2 separate regions of the Homo sapiens genome follow, and region 2 is linked to region 1. The links come from fine-mapping of genetic effects on gene expression. A gene starts in region 1. The other region holds a variant in brackets. All regions are shown on one strand. Distances are from middle to middle.

Region 1 (10,778 bases):
GCAATGGCGCAATTTTGGCTCACTGCAACCTCCGCCTTCTGGGTTCAAGCAATTCTCCTGCCTCAGCCTCCCGAGTAGCTGGGACTCCAGGCATGCACCACCACGCCCAGCTAATTTTCTGTATTCTCACGCCTGTAATCCCAGCACTTTGAGAGGCCGAGTTGGGAGGTTCACGAGGTTAGGAGTTCGAGACCAGCCTGGCCAACATGGTGAAACCTCGTATCTACTAAAAACACAAAAATTAGCCCTGCATGGTGGCAAGTGTCTGTAATCCTAGATACTGGGGAGACTGAGGCAAGAGAATGGCATGAACCCAGGAGACTGAGGTTGCAGTTAACTGAGATCATGCCATTGCACTCCAGCTTGGGTGAAAAGAGCAAGACTCTGTCTCAAATAATAATAATAATAGAAATCTAAACACTGGATGGATATTTGGTTATTTTGAAGAAGCATATTTTTTTTACATGTGAGTGAAATTTTTTTAAGTGATTATCTTTTAGACACATATACCACTATTTATAAATGAAATGTAATTTCCAGAACTCACTTCAAAATAATCTAGAAGTGGAGGAAAAAGGAAGGTGGCATGGAAGGAAGTGAATGGAAGTATAGAGGAAACCAGATTGGCCCTGAGTTGATAATTAATGAAACTAGATGACAGATACTTGGGTGTTTGTTATATTATTCTACTTCTGTATAAGATTGAAATCTGTCATAACAAAAAGTTAAGATTTTATCTAAAGGTAGACCTTCACTGAAATGAATCAACTTCAACATCTCTCTTCAACCACTAATACAGGTAATCTCCACTTCAGTGCAACATAAACAGGAGACATAAAACAAGACCAAAGACTGAAAGTAACTGGAAAATAACACAGCACACATAATCACCCACAAACACAACCACCATCATCAACCAGATGTGCCCACAGATACTGCAAATTTGATCTTATCATTCGATCAAATTTGTGAATTATAGATAACAATCTTGAGGCATTTTGAAGAACCATAATATATAGTTTCAAATTTTAATGTCTGAAAAGTGAGGTATTGTATTTTGATATATGCCTACACCAGAAAATAACCGAGATTTTAAATTAAATTTTATCTCTTACAGGGAAAGGTAAGATAATATTGTGTTACAATAAATTGGTACTTTAGAAACCTAAGTACCATATGATCCCTTGAAATGATCCATATTTCAAGGGAGTTCAGCATATTTAGACTTTCACTAAGTTCCACCAAGTTGCCATTTTGTGACATGTATGAGCTCACTATGTTATATTCCCCTGCCAAAACAAGTATTTTCTTTAAATACGTTGATCATAAGGTATTCTGGCTATTAATAACTATCAATTGAATGCTTACTAAAGTGTCAGTTACTCTGCTAAATATCATTGCTTGATTTAATCCTTTTAATCAGTTATACCCCAGTGGTAGATATATATAACCCACACTTTACAAATTAAGAAACTAAGGCTGCAAGTAAATTGCCCCAGATGAAATAATAAACATATTGATTCCTACTGGTTAACAATAGTAGGTCAGTTTTTATCAAATGCTTGGCAATATGTGAAAGTTTGTACATGTTATTTCAACACTCTCAAAATTCTATGAAACAGTCTTCATTTAACCAGGAGGGCATTCTCATCATAAGTTTCAAGGAATTTGCTAAAGGTTCATGTGTAATAACGGGAGAGCCAGGATTTGAACACTGATCTGACTCCAAAGCTCATGTTTTTAGCCAGTACATTTAACATCCTCCTAAACTAGCTTCCTGTACAGGTATTCCCATATTTTTAATGTGCATGCACAGAATTGAATACATACTCTGGCTATGGTTTGTTGAGACTATTACTTCTGATCTTCATAGATTTTAATATTAACATTATGATTTTACATTTCCAGAATGTTCCGCCAAATTTAAACCTTAAAGGTAAAATTCCAGCTTCAAATGATGGTGTACTCAAGATTCTCAATTGCATCAGCTGAATGCTGAGTTTTTACATCATATAAAGTTTGATAAAACTTTTTTTGCATCTTTATTATCGCTGATGAAATCATTGTTTACATTACAGAGGAAATTGTTGTATTAAATAGAATCTTGAAAAACCAAAGATTTCCTTCAAGGTCACCATGAATTATTAATGGAACAATCCTTGCATCAAATGTCTTGTACAGGCTGGGCATGGTGGCTACTTTCTGTAATCCCAGCACTTTGGGAGGCTGAGGCGGGTGGATCACCTGAGGTCAGGAGTTCAAGAACAGCCTGGCCAACATGGCGAAACCCCATCTCTACTAAAAATAAAAATTAGCTGGGCATGGTGGTGTGCCTGTAATCTCAGCTGCTTGGGAAGCTAAGACAGGAGAATCACTTGAATACAGGAGGCAGAGGTTGTAGTAAGCTGAGATTGTGCCACCGCACTACAGCCTGGGCAAGAGAGCAAGACTCTGTCTCAAAAAAAAAAAAAAAATGCCTTGTACAAACAAAGTCTATGCCTTTCCCTCTGTTGATAAACCATCACTCATTTACAGACCAGTAATTATTCTTATATATTATATATATATTTACATTAATAACTTCATTTTTTTGTCTCCCTATAAAGATTTAGTTCATTTTTCCATGATTAAGTCTTAGTAAACTTCTGATGGTTTAAGAATACCATTTATAAACCATTTTAAGAACTCTGCACATTTTAAAAATTATCTTTAACTATCAAAAGGTTTTATTTTTCTTACACTTTGTTCTTTGATATTAACTTGGATTCAGTTGAGCAGTCCTTAATATTTTGTATTAAACCAAGTAACTTCAAATACAAGAAAATATTTTAGAACTATGCACTAGAAAAGGTGCGCCATAAGAAGAAACTAGATATGAAAGCATAGTCTAAACTCTTCAGAATTTAAAGACTCATTATACTACAGTGTTAATAACTAGAATAGGCGGTAGGGAACTTGAACTTAGCAAGCTAGAAAATCTTAGGATGGGTTTTATAGCTGAAATTGTCTTTTATAAATCAAAGTTTGTACAGTGTTCATACCATTTTCTCTTTTGTTGTCCATGAAATATGAAAAACTTAGATAACATTAATTTGTTTACGTACTTAGGCTACAAAGGGTCAACACACAAGCTTTTGAAATACTTAAAAACAGCACTATTTTACATAGTAGGTAGACAGAAAGTACAGGCAAACTGGTAAATCTAATTGATACACAGATTTTTTTTTTCAGCAAGCTTTATTAATCCATCATGGATCTACTCATGTTTGCAGCAGATACCATGATTTCAGTATCAGTGAAGGGAGAAAAAAAAAAAAACAGCCTTCAATGCCTGTCACATCTAAGCAGATCTGAACTACTATGGGACTAAATAGCCTAGCTGGTCAATTGTTTTTACACATCTGATTAAAAGCTTCAGCAAAAGTGGAAATACATTAAAATTCAAAGTCAAATACTGTTCTCCTAGTGCCTCAAGTAGTTTATTGGTAGTTATTATCCACATTTCTATAAACATTCTAAGTGACCATCACTAGTGCAGGAATATTTAACATATGAAGGCTCCACATCAAGCTACTTCATTCATTTTGTGTGACACAAGAATCAAGGTTCCAAAAACTGTTATGCCACTGAAAAAAAAAAAAAACAAAAAAACAAAACCCAAAGCCAAAACAAATCCTGCTAGCAAAGTGCATTTCTTTTGGTGATTTTTCAGAACAGCTGTTGCTTTAGACATAAAAAATAAGCTGATTTAGTAAAATATGGTCACTGGAAGTAAGTGTCTGTAGATAAGAATTAGATAAAGGCCTTTCCTCCTTATAGAGCTTTTTATTCCAATGTAAACAGCACCAGTGAATTTTCATAAAACAGGTTTGTTATTTTCCCCTCATTTTCTATAATTGTAATTCTTATCTGCCATACTGTTACCATTTCTTCCTCTCTATAATCAGGACTGGACAGCCCATGTAACACTGTTCAATTTGTAAACAAAAAATTAAAGCTCGGAACACATACAGGTTATCTTTTACATTTTCATTCTACAGCGCATCAGGTATATTTATAAAGCTTTTGCTCTTCTCAACACACTACAAAAATATATAAAAACCACATTTGTTTTTAGCCAGCAAATATTAATAAAACAAATATCTTGTAACTGGAATATTTTAGAGACCACATATTTTAATTACATCCTCTTGACTAAATCGCCTTCTTCATAAATCCATATATGTATCCAGTGCATATTTATTAGTTTACATGCCCATATTTACTATGAATGAGTCAATCATTTTAGGTTCTTCAAGTGAAAGTGCTTCTGACAACAAACTATTCCTATAATAGCCCTAAATCCCCAAAAAAGTTGTTTTAAACCTGTGTAGAACGATGCATAGCTATTTCTAAAAAGTAAGACTACACACCAAAACATGCTTTGTCAGGAAAACTAATCCATGCACTTGAATATACCCCAAATATCTTATTTTTAATAAAGGTAGACCAACTTAAACATTGTCTAGAATTAAGCTATACTATTAAATTACTTGATTCCAGAAAGCGTCAAAAATCATTTGGCAGAAACTTAAAAAAGAAAATACTTACTCCTTGTCCCTTACTTCAAAAAAGGACTGGTTGGACCAATGTGATCAATATAACTGCATATATGTTAATCTACCTTAACATTTCCATCGATTAGCACTTGATCGTTACAAAGCCTTGTATGCAATTTTCTTGCAAAGGCTTCCCCCCGAAAGATGTAAGCACAAAACACTAGGCAGACACTCTTTAAAGTTTTATTTCACTAACTTCAGACCAAATTCCCACAACTGTGTTCTGGTCAATTTACTATCCTTGCTTGGCTTCCCCAAATGGTAGTACCAAAAGATTTGTGGGGTAGGGAGAAGAGACCACTTTAAGAAGCACTGCATTTACTCATCTTCCACAAGGCAACAGAGTTGGGCATCTGATTGTTCAACAAAACAAAGCTTTAATAGCATCCAGGAGGGCAGACAGGCAAACCACGCTGTAGACACTCTTCTATTTGTCAAAATCAGACCAGAGAAAACCTACTCCACACAGATATAATAGGTATTGATATTCATCTTTTCTTTTTCTGTTGCCGCAACATTTTTCTTCTTTTAATGATCATATCATGTAGTTTCTCAAGTCCTTCCTTTAGGCCATCTCCTATGATTGCACAGGTAGGCTGCAAATGCCAAGGAGTTGATGAGCTCAGTTCACCCATTGCTAACAATTTCTCAATTTCTGAAAGTGACAATGAGTTCCTCAAATCTTGTTTGTTAGCAACTATAAGTACAGGGACTCCCTGATTTTCTGATATCCTAGTTATTTTGTGAAGTTCAGTTTTGGCTTCTTCCATCCTTTCGACATCAACAGAGTCCACAACAAATACAATGCCATCTGTGCATCTGGTATATGACTTCCACAGTGGCCTTAATTTCTCCTGACCACCTACATCCCAGAAGTGAAAAGTGACTGTTTTAGAATTTCCCAAGGTTACCTTAATTTTCTCAGTGTTAAATCCTTTGGTAGGTACGGTATTTACAAATTCATTGAACTGCAGCCTGTATAAGACAGTTGTCTTTCCAGCACAGTCCAAACCCAGAATAACAATGTGGAAAGACTGAAATGAAGGCAGGTTGGACAGGATAGAAGTCTGGTCTGACAGCCCATTCCCCATTTCCAGGTGCAAATAAATGTCCCAAATTGAAATGCTTTTCTCTTCTTGGTTTACAACTTCTCTTGGTAGCTGATCCAGCTATAAGACTGCTGGGAGACGGAAGAAGGAATAAGTTATTCTCCCGAAATAATACATTAAAACAGGTTTGCTCTACTTTGCTAAAATAAACAACACGAAGAACTTACTATAACTTGCTGCGCTAAACAAACCAGACGAGATATGAAACGTACATGAAAACACACACAGTCCAAGACAAACGATGGAATAACAGTGATTGAAATTATCTGGTTTACTTAAATTGCAGTAATATGTACGTTTTTCTCCTGGGTCCCCAAACCTCAAAGACCTCATTCTGGAAAGAACCCAGTCACCAGTATCTGGTCTAAGTGGCCGTAACCACAAAGTGCCTATCTGGCAGAAAACTCATAGCAGATAGTCCTATCTTCGGAATCTAATTCCACATGCTTAACAGCATACCCAAGATCACTATTACCTCCTACCCCTTGCAAAATAACAACGTTCTCACCTCCCGATCTGGAGTCTGGGTCCAAATGAGAAAGCATTGGCAGGCGTTTCTACGCAGGGATAAGCACCCTTCCAGCTTAGCTCTCCAAGCAGCTCTGGCAGTTGCCGCACGAGAAACCTTGGACTCAGACTCCGACCACGCCCACTCCTCCCGGTCCACTCATGATCCCAAATCCCATTGGTCACCCGCATCAGGGAAGCCATGCAACTCCCGCCCCCGCTCCCTAATTGGTGAGGGTAACTGCCGCTCCCAGCGCGGCGGAGCTGAGCTCTCTCTCGGTCCACCGGCACCACCTGTTGCCCTTAAGTTAGAAAAGGCGGCGTTCCCAGAGGGAGCCGAGCAGCCGCTGCAGGTGAAGGGGAGCCTCGGGCGGTCAGGTCGCCGCCAGGCTGCCGGCTCCGTTCGGCCCGGCGCACCTGCAGCGCAGCCAGGGCGTCAAGCCAAGGCTCTCACATCCGGGGCCCGCAGTCACTGCCAACGCGTTAACCCTTTGTCCGCGGGCCCGAGGGTGCCGGCTGTTGCCGCGCGGGCCCCTGAGGCGCTAGAGATCCCACCTGGCGCGCCCGCCGGGATAAGCCCATCCTCCCCGAAGTGGGATCCCTTCACCCTGTCCCTCCGCACACGACCGGCTCTTCTCCCTCGGCAGGGCGTGGCCGCCCCGGCCGCCCACCCCGCCGCGGCTCACCTGACTAACCGTCCTTCCCTCTTCTTCATTCAGCGTCTCTCCCAGCCGCTGGGGAGGCGCGCTGATACCTGTTCCCTGGCACCAGGGAGGCGTGGGCGATGGCAGAGGACTGGGCGCCTGGCGGGCGCCGCGCGCCAGGCTGCCCTAACGGTGCTCGCCCGGCAGCTCCACGCGACAGTCCCCGCCCCCTGCCCGCGCGCCGCCCGGGCGCCGGCCTGTAGGGGGCGCGCAGGAGCCGCGTCTCCTAGCAACGCCAAAACAAGGTCGAGTTCGAATCGGCCTAGCGCTGGCTGCCCGCGAGGTCGGATGGGACTTCCGGCCTCACCCCTGAACGGTTGCTCCGGGTAGCTCTGTCTGCGGCGGCCCGCCAGCCTGGCACAGGCCCCGCCCGGCACCGCCTTCCCTCACGTCGTCTAGGGCGTCCGCGGGGCAGCAGCCACGTGATTCGCGGTTAGGGATTCCATAGTTCACGGGTTACGGCACACACGCGTTACGTATATATCGAGGTGACGTGGAAGTCCCCCAGTAGTTGACCTTAAACAGCCTGGGTTGACTGGCCTGGTAACTGCGCCTTCATTCGCTTTTTGTAGAGCAAATGAACGCGCTGTCTCACGTGTTTCTAGCAGCATCCCGGGGAACTGGCCACAGATAGAAATATTCCAGTTTGACACATAAGGAAATACACTCTGAAAGATGAAAGGGATGTTTCTTTTTTTCTTTTCTTTCAAATTGCTCACACAATTTTAATTGCAATAGATATAATTTCCAATATACCATTCAACTACACCATTTGTATGTGCTGGAGTGAGACAGGAGTATTTTGATTGAGTGTCCAGTTCTCTTTAAAACTAGCGTTTGCAGTTAACGACTTGGAAAATACAACACAAAAAGCCATCTAGCCTTTTTTTTTTTTTTAATCTCTATTTATCCCTTCAAAATTCCCTTTGTGGCCATATACATACTAGGTGGCTCTACCTGCAGAAAGCTGCATTTTCCAAGCAGCGGGAGAGTTTAATTCTTAACTTTCCTGTACTCCAGCCTCTGCTGGCTCCCTTGCATTTTTGTTTCCATCCTCTTCTTTGTCTTCTGTGCCTTTCGTTCTAGGTTAATCTGCGCAAGCTCTTCACTTTTGTCTGAATGTATTTTAGCGGTGAATTACTCCTTCTGGCTAAGAGCTTCACATCTTCAGTGTTAATGGTGGTGGTTTTCGCATGTCTTGCACACATTTCTAGATCTTGCACTGTCGAAAAGTCAGCTCCGAAATTGCTGCAATGATAAGTTTGCTGAACTGCATCTCTGCCCAATGCCACTTCCTCGCAAAGACAACCCACAGTGTAGTCCACTGCTGCCTCCTTTGGCCTCTGTTGGTAAGAAAATGGCTAAGAAAATCGCTGCTGCTCCTCCACCTCCACCTCCTCCTCCATCAGAACGGCGAGGCAAACGCGCAGAACAGAAAGGGGCTGTGGGGCAGCGGCCAGATTGGATTTTCTCTCCGCAGCCCCAAAGGGATGTTTCTAATGACCCAAGGAAAATTAGTGGTGGTCCTGGAACTGTTCATCTAAGTCTACTAGTCATCAAATGCAAAATGCTTTTCATTGGATGATTCTGACTAAATTTTGTCTTTGATCAATAAGTTCACAAATATTTATTGAACACCTAATAGGCAGTAGACACAATTCTGTGTGCTTGGGGATAAAATGGTGAGCAAAATACACTGTCCCTGCCCTTGTGGAATATTGGAGTCTCTATGGATGACTAAATTTATAAAATGTTTTCAGCGGTAATTTCAGGGTGCTTATGACAACCTGCAAAAGAAGTAATGACTTGAAGTTGTAGGAAAGCTTTAATCGACAAACATCTTTTTGGTGAAGGCTGTAAGACTGTAACTTGGAAGAACCTATATGGTACACTTTTTTAAAAGTGTGCTTTTTTTCTTTTTAAATATGGATTGGAGTTTCCTCAAGAAATATCCTAGTTTTTCTCAAGACCGCTATTGCCAGTGATATTTATTTCTTTTATGACTAGCACAGGAACATGCATACTTGTCATACCGGATTCTTTAAAAAGTCGAGACCAACCTGGCCAACGTGGGGAAACCCCATCTCTACGAAAAACACAAAAAATTAGCCAGGCGTGGTGGCGGGCGCCTGTAATCACAGCTACTCAGGAGACTGAAGCAGGAGAATCGCTCGAGCCCGGGAGGCGGAGGTTGCCGAGCCGAGATAGCGGCATTGCACTCCAGCCTGGGCAACAAGAGCGAAACTCCGTCTCAAAAACAACAAAAACAAAAACAAAAAACGACGTAAAAACCTAAGTTCTGAGCACAATGCATAATCTCAAGACAGCCACACTAATTTTGGGAATAAGAGCTAGAAATATCAAATGGCATATTCTATAAACATGAATCTATTATAAACTAAGGATTGCCTGATTAGTTATAATTGTGAAATCTCATTAGCCATTCACATAATCAGCTAATAATTGATAAAGGGCTTAGTGCAATAACCTATTTCCTTTTATTGGAAATTCAATAGGGATTCTTTATTAAACTGGGATAACTTGCAGATTCTCCTTAAGTCAAGAATTTAGAGCAAGAAAATTCTGTGGCCACCCTCTGTTTACAGTAGTTTTGAAATCTCTAAGTCCTTCCAGTGTTCCTTGCACAGTCTTCCCTGGAGCAAAAAGGGAAAAAAGGAAAACAAAAACACTGAGGGCTTCCAATCTTGCAGAATCGTCCTCACTGAATTGCACTTTAATGTTATACCCTAGGTTTTAAAACTACAGTAGTGGTTGGCAAACTGCAGCCTGTAGGTCAAATTCAGGAGATAAGAATGGTTTTTACAAGTTTAAAGGGCTGCAAGAGAATGGATAAGAAAAGAATATGCAATCAAGATCATCTATGCCCCCCACAACACACACATACAAAATAAATGTGCTCTCTGCCTCTGTAGAAAAATGTTTGGTGTGCCTGTTCTATATATAAAAACCATATGAAAACAGCAACAAATGATATTAAAAGCAATGGAATTTGTGGAACACAAGGTTCACTTTGTTGCCTGATCTTATAGAAGGCCCATTCAGAGCTTTTACTTACATTCTATGCCAGAAAAAAATTCCCTTTAGGGCCTGTAGCTTGTAAATAGTGCTCTGGGGTGCCTCAGAATTCCTAGGGGTTCTGTGGGATAGTTTAACTTTTTGAGGGAAACACAGTGACATCTGTTGGACCATATTAACAACTACAACTATCAAGTTTGGATCTATCAATTTCATAAATAGAAATGTTGGCTATTTATTTTGGCCTGAGGTACCATGAAAAAGTACTGAGGCACTAGGGCCTCTGCGAACCTCACCTTTAATTGTGGTTTTCCAAACTTGGCTAATGATGAGAATCACCTGTTAATGCTTGTAAATGTATAGATTCCTGGTTCCTCCTATTTCAGACCCCCCCAAATCAGAATCATCAGGAGAGGAGCCAGTGATCTGTATTTTAAGTAAGTATTTCAGATAATTAATGATTAGACACTTTGAAGAAATACTAATCATAAGAAATGGGTAAGTTTTCTCCTTTTAAATAACTACAACTGAGTAATTTACTTTGATTCTCTTTTTGAATTAAATATCAGGACCCAGATCAAATCTGATGCCTGTGTTCTGACTTCTAAGTAGAAGCTAAACAATGGATGCACATAGACATGTAGAGTGGAATCATAGACATTGGTGACTTCAAAAGGTGAAAGGGTGGGAGAAGGGTGAGGAATGAAATACTACCTATTGGGTACAGTGTACATTATTTGGGTGATGGCGACACTAAATGCCCAGACTTCACCACTACACAATATATCCATGTAACACAACTGCACTTATACCCCCTTAATCTA
Region 2 (10,778 bases), 34 kb before region 1:
AGAAAAACAGAGAGTCACTTCCTGACAAATGTCCAGTTCGCGTGAGGCCAGCTATATGTGCTGCACTTTTCTTTCATGAGAGTCCCCAGGGTGCTTACAAGAAAATTCCCAAAGCAGGTTGTGTGGGAGTTTGTAGCATGCAACCTAATAATTTCTCACCAAAACATAGATGGGACTTAGAATGAATGAGACAAAATATACTTGGAAGTGTTTTCACTAGGGAAAAACCTGTGGCTGAAGACAAGGATGTAATACCACTTTTCCAGAGTTTAGTAGTTAGTTGGCCTTAACAAAACTGGGATGCATCTTATCTCCAAGACTGAGCCATAGCCACATTCCTTGCGTTTTGTGTTACCTCCTCTGGAGGAGCCAGCAGATTTTGCCTATCTCTGGAAGTTCCAATTATTACAAGAGACTAGCATGAGTTCTAGAACTGCTCTCCCTTTGGGCTCTACTCCAAAACTGAACTTCATTAATACCTTAAAGCCCACATCCACCCATCTTCCCTTTCTCATTCACTCCATCCTACCCCACCCTGCATTAAAACTTACATTTACTCAAGAAAGCTGATTTCAGCTTACTGGTAGAAGGAAAACTATTGAAAAAAAGGTTCAGTTTAAGCTAAATAGTGGCAACAAGTGTTAACCCTTTCAGGCAAATTAAACAGCTTTAAGTGGCTTGTAAAGCCAAAGGAGCAAATTTCTATTGATGAAATTTCTATGGAGATAGTTTTGGTCGAGGCCTTCTCTCGTTTTATACTGTGCACAAAAATTGACTATTTTGTTCTGAACAAAGGCAACTCTAAGTAGACTTATGACTTAATGGAAGCAGTACTTCGATGACATGATACCTTCAAGGAAGGCCACCTTCCCAATAGGTGGAGGGAGGTGTGGAGTAGTGGAGAAAGCCAACCAAAGAGGAGTCCACTGATGCTACCTGGGCTTGAGGAGGGGTTGGGGGAGCTGCAGCAGATACGATAAGTGATGGGTCATTTTTAAAATCAGCCACTTGGATACAAAGTTGATCTGCTTTAAATGATTTAAAGTAAATCACTTGAGGATAAAAGCAGTGAGGCACCCTGGAAAGAGAACAGTCCCTACAGTTAGGAAGAAACACCAGACCCCACAATTTACTGTACAAGGGACTCTGGACACATTATTTAACCAAACCTAACCTGATAGGCAGTTTCTTCATTTCAAAAATACATAATTAGAAGATTTGAGATAGCTTGCTGCGTATATTAGACACTCAATAAATTGAAATATATAAAATAATTACTTACTATGTATATCCTGGGGGAAGAGCTAATGTCAGAGGCACAGTGAAGTAATGGTGACCTAGGGCTCGATTTTTCTCTCTTCATATTTTCTATCTAGCAGCTGGTTAGCAGTTATTACCAGAATTAACAACTTCAACAAATTCTACTTCTTCAACAAACTCTTCTTCTGACTCTAACTACAGCAACCTTTCTTTCTCTCTTTCTTTTCTTTCTTTCTTTTTCTGTCTCTCTTTCTTTCTTTCCTTCTTTCAAAACTTAAGTGTAGATAGAAATGAGCTATTTATAGCCACTACACTAGGCTGAAAATCTTGGAACCAATGTGGGTGCTGGGATGGGCCTCCAAGATTCAAGCCAATGTTAAAGGTGTATAACTAATTAAGAGGCTGGGTTCTAATAAATTACCCATTTATTTCAGCTGTGTGGGAGTAGCTATGGGGGTAAATAAAGGGGGTAAATAAGCATCAAAATGAGGAAAGGTGCAGCTGTTGACAATCTGATGACCTGCTTCAAGTCAGAAAGAAAAAGGTAAAGATTTTCTTTGCAATTAAAAAATAAGAAATTGCTGGGTGTGGTGACATATGCCGGTAGTCCAAGCTACTCAGGCGCCTGAGGCAGGAGAATCGCTTGAGCCCAAGAGTTCAAGGCTGCAGAGAGTGATGATTGCATCACTGCACTCCTGCCTGGACAACAAAGGGAGACCCCATCTCTTAAAAAAAAAAAAAAAACGAATAAGAAAGAAAACTTAAAATGATCTAAGGAGTCTTGATAACATCAATACCATAGACCTCAAATTTTCTATTAGTTTACAGAGTTATCAATTACATATTTATAGGCTATCATATTGAAAAGTAACAAAGGGCAGACAATGATTAAATACATTTTATAAAATATTTAGTCCTTCTATCCAAATAAAACTTAATATCCCTTTTCAAGTTTAATAATATGTCTGAAAGCAGTTTTGTCATATTAAGTAGAAGTAACATACCATACAGGATTAAGAAATGTTTTTATAATTAAGAACACTCAATTTTATTGAATGAATAATTTATTTATTGGACATCAAAAATGTATCATTTCTGGGAACTTATTTTCTAGGAAAAATTTTGCAGATGTAAATATTTCTCCGATAGAAATCTCAGAATTTTTAGAACATTGTTCAGTTATTTTTACTTAATCCTAGTACACATCTAATATCCAAAGTGAGACTCTACAGAAAATACAATCATTATTTAAGACAGAATATGCAAAGTAGAAATGGGAAATGATTAATACATTGAACATCATATTCATTCAGTCAATGAATATTATCAAATGTCTTCTATGTGCCAGGCACTGGGGAAAAACAACCATGAAGAAGACAGATATGTTCCTCACCATCAAAGTGGAATATAGGAATAATGGCCAAAGAACAAAATTACAATTGTAATAATTGGTATAAAAAGGTAAGAAGGAGAAACTGAATTCAAAGGAAGTAGCCCATCATAATAAAGTGTTTTTTTCTCCTAAAATCTATGAAATACTATGCAGGCCTAGATGCAAAGGAGAGAATGGTCCACTCAAGTAACAAAAGAAATCCAGAATTGCTGGAGGGAAAAAATCAAAAGAAAGAGTAGTGAAAAATGGTAGTGGGACTTTAAACTGTGGCTAAACAACCATACGGGATCGCAAAAGCCATATAAAGGTCAATCCACTGGGCTCTTTTTATCTGAGGGTTCTGTATCCATGCATTCAACCAATGAGGATAGAAAATATTTGGAAAAATTTTAAAAACAAAAATACAACAATAAAAATAATACAAATTTAAAATACAGTATGACAACTATTTATATAGCATTTACCTTGAATTAGCAATCTAGAAATGATTGAAATTATACAGGAGGATGTGCATAGGTTATATGCAAATACTATACCATTTTATATAAGGGACTCAAGCACCTGCAGATTTTGGTATCCATGGGTGTCAGGAATAGGGGAGAGGTACTATAACCACTACCCAAAGGATACCAAGGAACCACTGTAGTTTAAAGACATTAAAAGCCATCGAAGGCTAGGCATGGTGGCTCACGCCTGTAATCCCACCACTTCGGGTGGCCCAACCGGGTGGATCTCCTGAGGTCAGGAGTTTGAGACCAGCCTGACCAATATGGCAAAACCCCATCTCCACTAAAAATACAAAAATTAGCTATGCGTAGTGGCGCATGCCTGTAATCTAAGCTACTCGGGAGGCTGAGGCAGAAGAATGACTTGAACCCAGGAGGCAGAGGTTGCAGTGAACCGAGATCGCGTCACTGCACTCCAGCCTGCGCGATGGAGACTGCTTAAAAAAAAAAAAAAAAAAAAAAAAAAAAGGCTGGGCGCGGTGGCGCACGGCTGTTAATTCCAGCACTTTGGGAGGCCGAGGCAGGTGGATCACGAGGTCAGGAGTTCGAGACAAGCCCGACCAACATAGTGAAACCCTGTTTCTACTAAAAATACAAAATTAGCTGGGCATGGTGGTGCATGCCTGTAATCCCAGTTACTCGGGAGGCTGAGGCAGGAGAATCACTTGAACCTGGGAGACGGAAGTTGCAGTAAGCCGAGATCATGCCATCGCACTCCAGCCTGGGCAACAAGAGCAAAACTCTATCTCAAAAAAAAAAAAAAAGCCATTGTAGGGTTTTTAAGAAAAGTATGATGATTTGATTTGCATATTTAAGGATCACTGTCACTGAGTGGCTGATGGGCAGAAGGGGAGTAGCAGTGGTTCATAAAAATTTATTGTGAGCTTCTTGTGTGTCCCATACATTACAAAGAGATTTACATTAATTACCTATGTAACTCATCTTAAAATCCTTTGAGGTAGATACTATTTTATCCCACCCTCATAGAAGAAGAAACTAAGGTTAAACAAGTTTTGACAAACAGATATTTTAAAACCTAAAAGTCAGACTCAGAGCCCATACTTAATTACCATTAAGAAGATGAATTAGAAGCCTATTACAGAAATTCTGGCTGAGAAAACTGTGGCTTACACTAGAGGGTATGTAGTGGGGTTGGAAAGAAGTGGAAAGATTCAAGAGATATTACACGCATTCTGGTGCTAGAGCAGAGGGAGGGAAGAGGAAGGAGATGGCTGTCCCTAGGTTTGAGCATTTGGGTAGAAGCTGCTTCGTTTAAGAAATACTTAGCAGAGAAGTATACAAATTTTACGTTTGAACACTTTGCCTGAGAAACTTCCAGAGGAAAATGCCAAAGAGGCTGTTGGCTATATGGGTTGGGAATACAACAGTGCAGTCTGGGACACAGACATAAATTTAAAAATCTTCAGCAAATGCATAGTGTTTGAAGATACAGGAGAGGAAGAAATTTCTACGGCCACAATTTTCAAATGTAGTGTGTTGAAGACTCACTTAAAGAACTTGTTAAAAATGCAAATCCATGATCTCATCTCCCTCAAATACTAAGTATTCTTACTCTGCATGTTTCCAGGAAAAGGAAGGCAAGTAATTCTTATGCAGTTGGTTAGTTAATCTTTGAACAAATGAGGTAAAGAGAGAATGAGATAAAAAGAGGCAGTAGGACAGGGCCTGATGAACTCTAAAAAGATAAGTATATGAGAAATACTCAGCAAAATATATAGAAAAAAGAGCAGCCAGAATGATAGGAAGAACAGAGATGAGAATTGTGTCAAGAAATTTAAGCCAAGAGAGTGTATTTATAGGAGGAAGTTGGCAATAGTGTCAAATGCTGACATCTTAGCAGCATTTCTGAGCCAACTCTCTTCTTGGCCCTGAGGATCCCAAAAAGAACATGATATACCCACAGTTACGGGGGAGATACAACTACATCATACTAGGCACTAATTTTTATGTTGTATACATTTTATTTTACTTAAAACTTATATAGACTTATGTTTACTTACACTTGTAATATAGCTGTTATTATCTGTATTATTTATAGATAAAAATGAGGTTTACTGAGATTATATTTCTGGGTTGATATTAGTAAATGGCAGACTCATAATTCAAGCCCAGATCTGTCTGATTCCAGTGGCAATGCTCTTCTCAGCTATTGAGTATCACATTGCCTTTTACTATTGTGTCAGAGCACGTACAAGATGTTGAGGAAACATAAAGGAGGAACACATTACTCAGAAAGGTGGATACAGAAGTGTCAGGGAAGGTTGCACATCAACTGAGCCTTGAATGAGAAGAAATTGGCCAATCATACGAGAGTGGGAAGGGGTTCCAGTAAAGCAGTATGAGCAGGCAGTGCTGGAAAGAGAGAGCATCAACTTCAGGGAACTTCTGAAGCACAGGCTTCATGTAAGGGAGATAGGAGATCTGAGGGGGAATAAGTGAAGGTAGGAACTTTATCTTAAAGAGGAATCATCTAAGTATTTCGAACATGGGACTGTCTAGGGCGGATTTGTATAGAAAATTTATGGCAACAGTGTGAAGGATGAATTTGAGGAAAAGGAGGAGAGTAATCACAGGCAGACCAAGTGAGAGCCTCGCCAGTGATTGAAAATAGAAAAAAAGACCAGGCGCGGTGGCTCACACCTGTAATCCCAGCACTTTGGGAGGCCAAGGCAGGTGTATCACCTGAGGTCAGGAGTTTGAGAACAACCTGGCCAACATGGCGAAACCCTGTCCCTACTAAAAATACAAAAATTAGCCAGGCATGGTGGTAAGCGCCTGTAATTCCAGCTACTTGAGAAGCTGAGGCAGGAGAATCCCTTGTACCCCATAGGTGGAGGTCGCAGTGAGCCGAGATCACACCACTGTACTCTAGCCTGGATGACAGAGCAAGACTCTATCTCAAAAAAAAAAAAAAAA[GAGA/A]GAGAGAGAGAAAGAGAAAAAGGAGGCATGTCAGAGAGATGGGGAAGACACAAAGTAAAAAGAACTGGGTGGCTTGGATCAAGGGTGAGAGGGCGGTGACAGAGAGAGAGCCACATGGCATGAATACCAATTTTCTGACTTGGGCAATGGGATAGCTGGTAGGAAATGAAGCTGATATGGAAACAAACACTGAGAGTTAAGTTTTGGAGTTTGAATTGCCTGCAGAACTTCCAGGAGGACACATTGTAAACGTGGCTGGGTACATAGGTCTGGAACTTAACAAGAAGTTAAGGCCTGAAATCAGAGTATGTAAGCAACATTGATCCCCAAACTCATCTGACCACTAAACTCTTTGTCTAAAACGAAAAAGTTGTAGGAAAAGTTTATAATTCTCTCCTACTGGGAAAATTTGGAAGCTTTATCAGTGTCTCTTTTCTTCCCCATTTTTTTCAATAGTCACTGGAAAAAACAAGGAAGAAGGCAGAGCAGGAGCTCCTACCTGAATCTTCTCCATAGTCTATTATTTTACCAGAGATTTTTATCCATTTGCTTGAAAACAGGTGGGAATATCACTCAGAAGGATAGATTTTATCTAGTTAATACAAAAAATATTTTATGATTCATCCTGTTTTTTTATTCCCTACTTTTCATAAGTTTGTGAATCTCATTGCCAGTGACTTGGTTTTTTCTCAGGTTGTTTTTTTCTTTTTTTGAGATAGAGTCTAGCTCTGTCACCCAGGCTGGAGTGCAATGGCGCGATCTCAGTTCACTGGGACCTCCGCCTCCCAGGTTCAAGCCATTCTCCTGCTTAGCCTCCTGAGTAGCTGGGACTACAGGCGCATGCCGCCACGCCCAGGCTAATTTTTTGTACTAATTTTAGTAGAGATGGGGTTTCACCGTGTTTAGCAGAGATGGGGTTTCACTGTGTTGAGGGGTGTTGAGGACTACCGTGTTGCCCAGGCTGGTCTTGAACTCCTGAGCTCAGGCAATCCACCCACCTCAGCCTCCCAAAGTGTTAGGATTACAGGCGTGAGCCACCACGCCTGGCCATGTTCTCGGTTTTGATGTATAATTTGGATTAAAGAGAGAAAAGGGAAGAAATTATGATTGTACCATATTTTGTCTTGTGATATTTTCAATAATCAAAACAATTTAGCTGTCATGTGAAGAATTCTGTCATCAAGCAGGCAAAAATCAATCCACAAAGAATGATAAGGGCAATGTTTATCCTGCGAAGCAACAGGCTGCTAAAATATTGCTTTCATTTCTCTCTAACGGCAGCAATCCTACAGAAAAAAATATCACATCATTTATTCTTGGTGTGATGTAAGTTTTTTTTAGGGTCTTGCGGCGGGAGGGGGGAGGCGGTAACATTGCACAATTTTTTAAAGTAATACTTTTAAAAGGGAATTTCCATAACAACCCTGTAATTATTAAGTGGAAATGGCTTCATTGCTAGACAGGAAGGCCTATCCCAGCCAAAAAAAAAAAAAACCCTCAGTAGATTTCCGTTTGAAAATTACTCTTGAGAATCTAAAGTAGTAAAAATAAGTAAAGATTATTCTAGTTCATGCAGCTAGAGGCTTCTCCCCCTCATTTTTTAGCATGAATGCCACTTTCTTTTAGAAAGATAGATTGTACAAACCAGCTCTCCTTCTGTGATGCGCTTAGTATGGATGAAGATACAAAGGAAAGGTGAATCTTTATCATCCTTCAAACTTTCATTGAATTGTCAAAATTAGGAGCATTTGCTCTTTTTTTTTTCTCTCACTAGATTTCTTCTGTTTTGGGGAATTCCTATAATTGTGCTCTCCCCACCCCCACCCCCACCACCCACAGTGACTCAGGATCATATTATAAAGGTTACAGTTGAGACAATTTTAACAGACTCGGGTTGAATTTGAGGGTACTTAGTCATCATAGCTTCTAGTATATTTGATTACTCCCTAAAAGGCCTACTTGGCAAGTGCACGTTGTCTAAACTCGGCTGGCACATTCAGGGAAAAAATAAAGTAAAATAAAACCTGCTGGACTGATCTTGAAGAAAGGTCTCATATCAAGGAGGGATGGTAAATCACATAGGCCAAGTTATTTCTTAATCAGTAAGAAAAAGACAAATGATAGAGCAGAAAAAGAAGTCTTTGGACTACAGTCATGACTGATAAAAGCATGATCTTTCCTTTCTGATTCTTTACATGAATGTGCAAGTCAAGGGCGTCAGGAATATAAAAACTCCTGAAAATTTGGCAAGGCTGTGTAGTAAACATTACTGGGAAGACTGCGCAACCCATGCATCACCAACTGCCTTCTCTGAAAATTGCCCCACCCATAGCCATGCCTGAGACCTGATCATAGAACATGATTATTATCCTATTCTGCCTGTGGAGGATCAGGATTTATAGCTGACATAGCCTGATCCACAGTGACTTTTCCAGGCCAGGGGCTGGAATTGGGATCCAGCCCTGGCCACCAGCCCTAGGAAAGTAATACACAGCAGAAAAGCTAGTCTGTAGAGAGAGAAGAGAAGAGCTATGGAGAGGTACAAAAACAAAAGACTATGAAATGGCTTGAACAACAAGGTAAATAGTGGTTTAATTAGTTGGACAAGGCTAGGATAGTTAAAAGTCCTTTTCCATACATGTGACAACCATTTTAATTAAACATACAAAGGGAGATGTGGATTAGACATCTGAAACCAGCGGAGATGTCAGGATGGAAGACAGAAATTTTAGACTCATCAGCATAGAGATCGTTTTTAAATTCATGGGGTTGGATGAGGTCAACAATGAATAGAAAATGGATAGAGAACAGAGACTGAAGCAAATCCAAAATGCTGTAGCATTTGGCAATTGAGTAAAGAAGTAAAAATTAGCAAAGGAGAACAAGCAGGAACAGCAAGAGAGGTAGAAAGGAAATCAGTTGAGTGTGATATCACAGAAGCCGAGAGAGTAGTGTTTCTAGAAGGAGTGATCAAATCAGCTCAATCTTACAAAAACAATTAAGATAAAAATATTAACACTTCTTGGAACTATTTGTATTTAGTTTTTCTTATCAAATGAATGTTATTTATACTGATTTTGACTGATATTAAGGTTTCATATCTAAAATAAAAATATAAGTCAAAAACTTTTTAAATGCCTCAGACAGACCCAATTGGCTTTAGTTAAGAAAAAAATTGGTTCAAGCCAGGTGCAGTGGCTCATGCCTGTAATCCCAGAACTTTGGGAGACCAAGACAGGTGGATCGCTTGAGCCCAAGAGTTTGAGACCAGCTTGGGCAAAACAGCCAAACCCCATTTCTATAAAAATATAAAAATTAGCTGGATGTGGTGACTTGCACCTGTAGTTCCAGCTACTTGGGAGGCTGAGGTGGGAAGATTGGTTGTGCCTGGGAGGTGGAGGTTGCAGTGAACCGAGATTGTGCAACTGCACACTTCAGCCTAGGCGACAGAGACAGACGCTGTCTCAAAAAAAAGAAGAAGGAAGGAAGAAAAAAGGAAAAGAGGGACGGAGGGAGGGAGGAAGGGAGGGAGGGAAGGGAGAAAAAGAAAAAAGCGGCTGGGCAAATGGTTCATTCCTGTAATCCCAGCATTTTGGGAGGCCAAGGCAGGAGGATTGCTTGAGGCCAGGACTTTGAGACCACCCTGGGCAATACAAACATCCTGTCTTATGCCTAGTGGATGTGTCTGTGTGGACGTGCACACACATTGGCTGATGAACCCCCCTTCCTGTTTTACAAACAGGCTCTACAAACAGACAAAATATATTTACAAAAAAGATACATCCATCTATACACACACATATATTAGCTGTCTATACAGCTATCTCTACAAACAGACAAAATATATTTACAAAAAAGATACATCCATCTATACACACACATATATTAGCTGTCTATACAGCTGTCTCTACAAACAGACAAAATATATTTACAAAAAAGATACATCCATCTATACACACACATATATTAGCTGGGTAGCCAGGTGTGGTGGTGCGTGCTTATAGATCTAGTTACTTGGAAGGCTGAGGCAGGAGGATCACTTGAGCCACAGAGTTTGAGTTTTCAGTGAGCTATGATTGTACCATGGCACTCCAGCCTGGTACGGGGTGACAAAGCGAGACCCCATATCAAAAAGAAAAAGAAGAAAACAAACAAACGAAAGGGTAGGAGCAGGTTGTTTTACAACAGTTTTTTGTAATAACTAAAATTGGTAGGTGTAGATTAGTCTAGGTGTGAGATTCTAAAAAGAAATGTCATCATGAATGTTTTCTGAGAGTCACTTTGAAGAAGAGTTAGGATATTGTTTGATGGATGATAATGAATGTCCATTCCAGGGAGGGGGTCTGAATGCAAAAAGGAAGACTTAAAAGAGGTCTGCACAGCTGGAGCAAAAATGATCCCCAAATAATTTTATGAAAACTGTTGCAAAGCAATAAAAGAGGCAATGGTGATTGTGCCAAGCGTATGCGGGAGAGAGCTTGTTGGGCCAGTGGAGAGAGGTGCTTACTTGTCCGGTAATATTTATCAGCACTTCCCCTACACCATCTAAATAAAAACAACGTGCTTCCTAAGTCAGCACTTCAAAGCAAGTCTTCTGACCCCCTAGTTTGACCAGACTGGCCTCCAAGCCCTACTTTATGCTAAGGCTGCTGTAATTAATGGGCCACGTTTCTTAGCAG

Alleles and levels. Alleles are on the strand shown, and positions count from the first base shown. SD is a standard deviation of normalised expression in the study named.
In carriers of allele A in region 2, the expression in monocytes after R848 of the gene that starts at base 6,311 in region 1 tends to be lower than with GAGA alone (moderate effect, 0.54 SD a copy in Quach 2016).

Evidence for each region. PIP is the estimated chance that this variant, and not a neighbour inherited with it, causes the effect.
Region 2: its variant is fine-mapped to the expression of ARL4A in monocytes after R848 (Quach 2016, PIP 0.95).

The regions. Positions count from the first base shown.
Region 1 is chr7:12,683,166-12,693,943 of GRCh38, reverse strand. ARL4A (ARF like GTPase 4A) reads right to left here and starts at 6,311. Exons shown (of 2, transcript NM_005738.5): 1 at 6,216-6,311; 2 at 2,986-5,778. The coding sequence starts at 5,689. The coding sequence ends at 5,087. It also overlaps the pseudogene LOC100505995. RefSeq lists silencers at 6,747-6,796, 6,997-7,276 and an enhancer at 6,266-6,802.
Region 2 is chr7:12,716,920-12,727,697 of GRCh38, reverse strand. No RefSeq gene overlaps it. Among named protein-coding and RNA genes, the nearest start is that of ARL4A, 35 kb to the right of the region's middle. RefSeq lists an enhancer at 4,620-4,914 and a cis regulatory region at 4,583-4,983. The variant GAGA/A (reference allele first, on the strand shown) is at 6,097.